2 separate regions of the Homo sapiens genome follow, and region 1 is linked to region 2. The links come from fine-mapping of genetic effects on gene expression. A gene starts in region 2. The other region holds a variant in brackets. All regions are shown on one strand. Distances are between the middles of the regions.

The links. PIP is the estimated chance that this variant, and not a neighbour inherited with it, causes the effect. A credible set is the group of variants that fine-mapping cannot tell apart.
Region 1: its variant is the best candidate, but not a certain one, in a credible set for the expression of POLA2 in spinal cord (GTEx, PIP 0.67).

The regions. Positions count from the first base shown.
Region 1 is chr11:65,320,591-65,324,974 of GRCh38, reverse strand. It overlaps CDC42EP2 (CDC42 effector protein 2), which reads right to left. Exons shown (of 2, transcript NM_006779.4): 2 at 2,558-4,384. The coding sequence starts at 4,076. The coding sequence ends at 3,444. It overlaps LOC124902691 (a long non-coding RNA gene), which reads right to left and starts at 1,230. Exons shown (of 2, transcript XR_007062728.1): 1 at 887-1,230. The variant C/G (reference allele first, on the strand shown) is at 2,654.
Region 2 is chr11:65,259,606-65,263,989 of GRCh38, reverse strand. It overlaps POLA2 (DNA polymerase alpha 2, accessory subunit), which reads right to left and starts at 2,028. Exons shown (of 18, transcript NM_002689.4): 1 at 1,619-2,028. The coding sequence starts at 1,697. RefSeq lists enhancers at 1,117-2,002, 1,759-2,008, 2,003-2,890.

The DNA of each region.
Region 1 (4,384 bases), 61 kb before region 2:
TGTACTCCACCCTGGGCGACAGAGCCAGACTCAGTATCAAAAAAAAAATAATAATAAAATAAGGCCGGGCACAGTGGCTCACGTCCATAATCCCAGCACTTTGGGAGGCCAAGGTGGGCAGATCACCTGAGGTGAGGAGTTCGAGACCAACAAGACAAAATCCTGTCTCTACTAAAAATACAAAAATTGGCCTACAAAAATTAGCTGGGCACCGGGTGCGGTGGCTCACACCTGTAATCCCAGCACTTTGGGAGGCCAAGGCAGGAGGATCACAACATGGCCAAGATGGTGAAACCCCGTCTCTACTAAAATACAAAAAATTAACTGGGCGTGGTGGTGCATGCCTGTAGTCTCAACTACTCGGGAGGCTGAGGCAGGGGAATCGCTTGAACCCGGGAGGCGGAGATTGCAGTGAGCTCAGATCGTGCCACTGCACTCCAGCCTGGCACCAGAGCAAGACTCCATCTCAAAACAAAAACAAAAATAATTAGCCGGGCATGGTGGCAGGCACCTGTAATCCCAGCTACTCGGGAGGCTGAGGCAGGAGAATCGCTTGAACCTGGGAGGCGGAGGTTGTAGTGAGCTGAGATCGTGCCACTGCACTCTAGCCTGGGCGACAGAGCAAGACTCCGTCTCGAAATAAATAAATAAATAAATAAAATGTCCAGAAATAATAAAAAAATGCATTCTCACACACACACACACACACACACACACACACACACACACACACACACTGTGTAATGTTTGTGAAAGGCTGGGGGAGTGGTGGGTGTCTGGGATTCCAAGGTCACACAGGTAGAAAAGAACTGGCTGAGGGTGGAAGAAGGGGCCACCGGGCCCCACCTTAGGCCACTCCCCTCCTCTCTGTCTCCACCATCCTCACCTGGGTCCAGTCCTCCTGCTCATGCCTGCCATGGCTACCTCCATCCCCGACCTGGCGTGGGTGATGTCGTTCCTCAGGTCTAGATCTGACCACCTATCTCTTCTGCTTTCACGTCCTTCAGCAGCACCCCATCGCCTCAGCGTCAGCCTGGCCAGCGAAACTCTTCCCTGCTGCCGCCAGCCTGTGTTCCAGCTTCACAGTCCCGCCCTTCCCGAGCCCCAGTTCTTTCCTTCATCACACACTGCAACCATTTGTAACACCTTTCCTGGACGGGCATGGTGGCTCATGCCTGTAATACCAGCACTTTGGGAGGCTGAGGCGGGCGGATCAACTGGGGTCAGAAGTTCGAGACCAGCCTGGCCAACATGGTGAAACCCCGTCTCTACTAAAAATACACAAAATTAGCTGGGAGCAGTGGCAGGCATCTGCAATCCCAGCTACTCGAGAGGCTGAGGCAGAAGAATTGCTTGAATCTGGGAAGCGGAGGTTGCAGTGAGCCGAGATTGTGCCACTGCACTCTAGCCCAGGTGACAGAGTGAGACTCTGTCACACACAAAAAAACAAACAAATAGACAACAAAACAAAAAATTAGCCAGGCATGGTGGCGTGCACCTGTAATCCAAGCTACCTGGAAGGCTGAGGCAGGAGAGTAGCTTGAACCCGGGAGGCAGAGTTTAGTTAGCTGAGACTGTGCCATTGCACTCCGGCCTGAGCAACAGAGTGAGACTCCGTCTCAACAGAAAAAAACAAAACAAAACAAAACAACAACAACAACAACAAAAAACCCTTCCCTGTGGCTAGTATAAATGTTATCCCTAGTTTTCTCAATAACCCTGTGAGGTAGCTATCAGTGGCTCTTTTTTTTTTTTTTTTTTTTTTGAGATAGAGTCTCACTCTGTCACCAAGGCTGGAGTGGAGTAGCGCAATCTCGGCTCACCGCAACCTCCAGCTTCCGGGTTCAAGTGATTCTCCTGCCTCAGCCTCCCTAGTAGCTAGGATTACAGGCACGTGCCACCATGCCCAGCTAATTTTTGTATTTTTAGTAGAGACGGGGTTTCACCATGTTGGCCAGGATGGTCTCGATCTCCTGACCTCATGATCCACCCACCTTGGCCTCCCAAAGTGCTGGGGTTACAGGTGTGAGCCACCATGCCTGGCCTGCTCCATTTTAGAGATGGGGAAACTGAGTCTCAGGCCAGGTGCAACTCGGAGGTCCACGCTCTTTTGCTGTGTGGTGTCTGCTCTGTCTTCACTCTGGTTCCTCAGTGCCTGTGCTTACATATGAGTTATCTGGCTGGTAGCTCCGATTTGGCTCAGAATCACATCTGATCACATTAATGAGCCCTGACACTCCCTGACCTCCCTGCTAGGCATTCCTGATCACGTTGTTTTCTTCGTAGCCTTTACCACTGCTGGAAATCATCTCTTATTTGTTTACCAATTTAATATCCCCCTTCCAACTAGAATTTAAACTCTTAGAGAGCAGGGATGGCGTCTGCCTTGTATCCCCAGCACCCGGAGCCGTGCCTTGTATACTGGAGATGCTCAGTAAACAGCCGTGGATGGAATGAATCTTGAAGCAGCACTGTTAGACCCTCCCAGCTCCAAGCATCCCTCCTGCATGCTCCCTCGGTGCTCTTAAGCTGGAGAAGCTGTTGGTCCCTTGCACACTTTGTGGTTATTCTTTTATTCTTGGGTGTCCCCCACCAGACCCCAGCTGACTGGGCAGGGATTGGCCCCAGGCTTGGCACAGTGCCAAGCCCACCC[C/G]AGTGCTCAGCCACCTCTTGCCAAACATCTGAATCAATGTCACAGCAACACTTGGTTTGCTCCTGTTGCATTCTCATGACAGGCTCAGCGTCAGGTACGACGTTCTTGAGGGCAAGGCCTGTCCTCCACAAAGCCCTCTGGGGCTGGGGTCTCCAGAGGCAAGCCCTCAGCTCTGGGAGACTGTCTGCCTCCGGGAGGAAACCTGGGGCAAAGGGACAGGGAGCTCCGCCACCAGCAGCAGCATGTTTTATTGCAACCAGAATCCCCGGTCACGTGGGGAAGGGATTGGAGCTAGGGATGAGGCAGGACACATCTGGTCCCTGACAGGACACTCCCCGTCCAGGATGCAAAGCCAAAGGCCCGGAACAGCCTGCTCAGTGGCTGAGCCCTGTGGCCAGCTGTGCCCTGTCTCTTCCCCTGCCCCCAGTCAGGGCATCCAACGGGGCAGAGGCAGAAGGGACGTGAAAAGGGGGGTCGGTTTCAGCAAAGCCTTCACCCAGGGACCTGAAGGAAGAAGGAGTATTGTGATGGGGTCCAGGTGCCCCAAGATGCTCAGGGCGCCTGGGCTGACTTCAGGATGTGTCCATGTGGTTATCAGAGGAAAGCGATGGGGCCTGCCCTGCCCACGTGGAGAGGGAGGGAGAGGGGAAACACGGCTCAGAAGGAGAATCACTGGCCAGCGACCATACAGGTGGGATCTTGGGACCCTGACTCCGCCGCCAGGGCCGGGTCCACACCCCACCTCCTGGCTGGGCCCCACCTGGGACCCCAGCCTAGGCAGCCTCGTGTCCTATGTGGGGATCTGCATGCTGTCCAGGTCCTGATCCATGATCTGCAGGACATCATCCAGGATGGAAGGCCCCAGGTCCACGTGCAGGGACAGCAGGGAGCTGGCATTGGACAGGAAGGGCTCCTCGGCCCCTGACTCCGGGGTCAGTCCACTGTTGGGGGAGCCAGTCTCTGGAATCCTCCAGATGTCCACACTCCCTCCCTCCTGTGGGGAAGGCTGAGGGGTCTCCAGGTGCAGGCGAGGGGGCTTGGGTGGAGCCTGGGCTGTGGGCAGGGTGAGAGCCTGGGGTCCACCGATAACCGGGAGGGAGATGGCGTTCTTGAGCAGAGGGGATGGGCCGTCCGGGAGCTCCCGCCCACACACGGTGGCGGTGCGGGTGAACTGGAAGGGGAGGTCGAAGGTGCCATCTTCTTCAGGCCCCTCCACCATGGTCCCCGGCAGGAGGTGGAACTTGCCCTGCAGGAAGGAGATGTCGCCAAACATGTCACTGCCGCCGCCACTGCCAATATGAATGGTGTGGCGGAAGTCCCCCAGCGGTGGGCTGATCATGTCCGAGGACAGCAGGTCCCGAAGCTTCTCCTTCTTGCCCTTGCGACTGCCACGCTTCAGATAGATGGGCACCTTGGTGGACATGGTGACCTCACCACCAGGCCTGGCTGTGAGGCTACGGGCCGCCTGCTGAGACCACACCTCCTCTCCAACCCTCAGCCAGAGGAAACACTCGTTCCACGGGGTGGTTTGCAGGTGCCAGAGCTCGCCAACGGGCTTCTGGCTACAGTGTGGGGGCACGAACAAAGTTGGCCCAAGGAATTAAAAAAGATTAGAGATCAATGAAGTCAGTGGGCTGAGATAACAAAAATCACGTTCTCCCCAAAGGACGGCAAACTCTTCTGAAGAATTGAAGCCAGAAAGGTAGGAACTGTGTGGGCAGCAGTGCACTT
Region 2 (4,384 bases):
AATTCCAAAGCCATTGCCATGAGATGAAAGCAACTGGCATCTTGGCCTGAAGCCTTTACAAATCTGGTTCACATAACTAATTTCTCTCATGCTGATTTCATGCTTACCACATACATTTCTGACTATGATCAGGTTTTCCACTTAAGTCTTTTTTTTTTTTTTGAGACAGAGTCTCGCTCCTGTTGCCCAGGCTAGAGTGCAATGGTGTGATCTCGGCTCACCACAACCTCTGCCTCTCATGTTCAAGCGATTCTTCCGCCTCAGCCTCCTGAGTAGCTGGGATTACAGGCATGCGCCACCACGCCCGACTAATTTTGTATTTTTAGTAGAGACAGGGTTTCTCCATGTTGGTCAGGCTGGTCTCAAATTCTCGACTTCAGATTATCCACCTGCCTTGGCCTCCCAAAATGCTGGGATTACAGGCGTGAGCCACCACACCTGGCTAGTCTTCTTTTAAAAAGAGAAGGACCGAGCCTGCTGGCTTATGCCTGTAATCCCAGCACTTTGGAAGGCCAAGGTGGGTGGATCACTTGAGGTCAGGAGTTCGAGAGCAGTCTGGCCTACATGGTGAAACCCCTTCTCTACTAAAAGTACAAAAAAAAATTAGTCGGGCCTGGTGGCGGGCGCCTGTAATCCCAGCTACTTGGGAGGCTGAGGCAGGAGAATCGCTTGAACCTGGGAGGCGGAGGCTGAAGTGAGCCGAGATTGCACCACTGCACTCCAGCCTGGGTGATAAAACAAGACTGTCAAAAAAAAAAAAAAAAAAAAAGAGAGAGAGAGAAGGCACTGGGCATGAAGACTTGAAGTATTCTGGTTTCTGAAAGGAATTTCTCACCATAAATTAACGTTTCGTTATCTTTTTGTATATAAGAAGTTCAAAGTGTTGAGTGGTTAAGGCAGGTGCACATTCATACCGATTCTAGAACTTCCACATCTCCCAGGCTTTGCTTCAAATGACTCCTTACACTGCTCTACAGCTTGACCAACACGATGGACCCGTATGATGCAGCACGGGACTCCAAGGCAGGACACCTGGCTTCACAGACAGCTCAGGCAATTAGCTTTCCTTGTCTGTTTCTCCATCTGTAAAGCTCCCTAAAGCTCCTTCCACAGCTCAAATTCAATTTTAGGAACCTACCTCAAGGGATTCATATTTGCACAGACCACCAACAGCTATGATAAAATAACTGATGGATCAGCAGAGGTTTAAGGTGTAGGCTGGAAAGGGAGGAGCCAAGAATAAAAAGCTACATTTCAAAACCCCCACATCTGTTGCTTTGTTACCGGGGCTTCAACAATTTCCAAACTCAGGTGCCACCAGTGCCTAGTCTCTATCTAGCACATCCCAATTCCGCCTTTCGGGAACTTCGAGTTGGTTTAAAATCGTGCTGCATATTCCTATTTTTGATTTGGCATCCAAGCGGTACCCGGTGGGCATTTCAAAGTCCCCACATCCTAAATCTCAAAACTCAAGTTTGATTCTTCATCTCACAGCCACCGAGAACTCTGCTCCAGGGGAAGTGGAAATTGGAAGCGCTCCACTTTCGGTTCTAGGCGCCGAGGAACTCGGGCGAGAGCGTGGAGCACGGCTGCAGGGCGGGAGGGGTGCGGGACTCACATTTCTCAATTAGAGCCTCCTCGCAGTCTAGGCCGAAGATCTGCAGCTCCTCCGCCAGCTGCTGGGCGGATGCGGACATGGTCGCCCAAGCCAGGGGCCGGGGAGCCGGCCCACCCAGCTCCGACCTGCGCCCAAGAAGCCCACGGGGGTGGCGAGCGATGAGCTCCTCGCCCTCTTATCCTTCCCCCCTCCGCGGACCGTGACAGGAGGTGACTGGCCCAAGCAAGACCTCAGACCGTCAGAAGGCCCCGGCCGTCGGTCACAGAGAAATACTTTTTTTAAAAAATGAAGGGGTGGCTCCCAAACGCCCTGAATGGAGGGAGCAGAAATCTCGAGAGGACGCTCTCCTGGTGAGAACGTCCTGCTTCCCAAAAGCTACCGCTGAGCTTCTCAGTGACGGTGGCAGAACTGAGTGGCCGGAAAAACCCGCCAAATGGTTTGTGCAGTGCACGCATGCGCGAAACCGGGAGCCAACCCCAAACCTTCCCCTTGCTTTCCCCGGCTCATTCCGGAACCCCACGCGCGCACGCGCGGCCCAGGGCGCGTGCGCATCAGCGGGCGTGTGGGCGTCTCTACGCACGCGCCTGGCGGCCCGCCAGTCAGCAGCTGCGCAGTTCTCTCTCACGGCGCGAGAATGCCGGTTGTGACTCGCAACGCCCGGGAGTTGCCTACAAGGAAACTGAGTCTGTGTGCGGATGCCTGTTTTCTGGGCATCGGCTGCTCGATAAAACTCAGTGGCGCATGTTTGTCACCCTTTTGCCCTGTTCCGTGGTGCGCAGGCGTTGTCGTGCGCGTGCCTTCGACTATCTAAAACTTACTGTACCCCCTTCTCCATTCCCCTTGTCATCTCTGCCTGTTGTGCCCTTGGTTCATCCTAAAAGAATGGCTTCAGTAGGGAATCTGGTTGCCATGGTTATTATCGTGCTTATCACCGTGGTGCCAGCCACAGTGATGGGTATGTTTTCTGAATCTGGGGCATTTGGGGGGATATGAGGTGGGAAGGTGACGGATAATTTAGTTTTGGACACGTTAAGTTTGAGTGCCTCTGGGATTTCCAGGTAGAGATTCCCAGTGGGTGACTGGAGGCTTGGGAGTGAAGGTAGGTCACTCAAGGATAGAGTTTAGGGGTAAGATGAGAAGAGGGTTCTCCCCTTGAAATACACCGTAATTCTTTGAGCCAAAAATCTCAACCGTAGGCGTCATACAATGCTGGTGGGATGGTATAGAGCGTTTCGAGAAAACAATTTAGCAATATGTATCAGGAACCTTTAAAATGTCCATCCCAGGCCAGGTGCGGTCACTCACGCCTGTAATCCCAGCATTTGGGAGGCCGAGGCAGGCGGATCACTTTGTAGCAGGACGAGCCACAGACAAAACTCCTCAGACACCCGAGTTAAAGAAGGAAGGGGTTTATTCGGCTGGGGTCATCGGCAAGACTCCTGTCTCACCAGCCGAGCTCCCCGAATGAGCAATTCCTGTCCCTTTTAAGGGCTCACAACTCTAAGGGGGTGCGCCTGAGAGGGTCGTGATCAATTGAACAAGCAGGGGGTACGTGACTGGGGGCTGCATGCACCAGTAATTAGATCAGAACAAAACAGGATAGGGATTTTCACAGTGCTTTTCTATACAGTGTCTGTAATCTATAGATAACATAACTGATTAGGTCAGGGGTCCATCTTTACCAAGCCTAGGGTGTGAGGCCGGGCTGTCTGCTTGTGGATTTCATTTCTGCCTTTTAGTTTTACTTTTTCTTTCTTTGGAGGCAGAAATTGGGCGTAAGACAATATGAGGGGTGGTCTCCTCCCTTAACTTGAGCCCAGGAGTTCAAGATCGGCCTGGGCAACGTGGCGAAACCCCTTCTCTACAAAAAATTAGCGGGCGGTGGTGGCGGGTTCTTGTGATCTCAGCCACTCTGGGGGCTGAGGCTGGAGGAGCGCTTGAGTTCGGGAGGTCGAGGCTGAAGTGAGTCATGATCGCCTCACTGCACTCCAGCCTGGGCGACAGAGCAAGATCGTGTCTCAAAAAGCAAACAAAGGCCGGGTGCGGTGGCTCACGCCTGTAATCCCAGCACTTTGGGAGGTCGAGGCGGGAGGATCACGAGGTCAGGAGATCGAGACCATCCTGGCTAACACGGTGAAACCCCGTCTCTACTAAAAAAAAAAAAAAGAAAAAAAAAAGAAAGCCTAGCGTGGTGGCGAGCACCTGTAGTCCCAGCTACTTGGGAGGCTGAGGCAGGAGAACGGCGTGAACCCGGGAGGCGGAGCTTGCAGTAAGTCGAGATTGTGCCACTGCACTACAGTCTGGGCAACAGAGCGAGACTCCGCCTAAAAAAAAAAAAAAGCAAACAAAAACCGAAGTATGTGTGACCTCTAGTCAGCCAATGGCTGCTTGGCTGTATTTTGAATTTAGGCCTAGTTAGCCACTCCGGATCCATCATGAACCTCTTTTGGGGTTCACACCCTTAAGCCTCAAATATTTACTCTCTGGCTCTTTACGGAAAATGTTTGCAGTTTCCCACCATCAGCAATAACCAATGGATATCAAATGTGTTACATACATATTTTTCCCAACCTGTCTTTTAACTTTGTGGGTTTTTTTTTCTACCACACAACACTGTGCAATTCTTTTCCTGTATGGGTTTTAGGTTTCCTGCTTTGTTTAATAAGGTCTCCTCGACCTAAGCTTATGCAAATATTCTTCCAATTTTTGTTTTATTAATTTTACTTACGTTTTGCCTTTAGTTCGCTAATCCACCTAGAATTAATC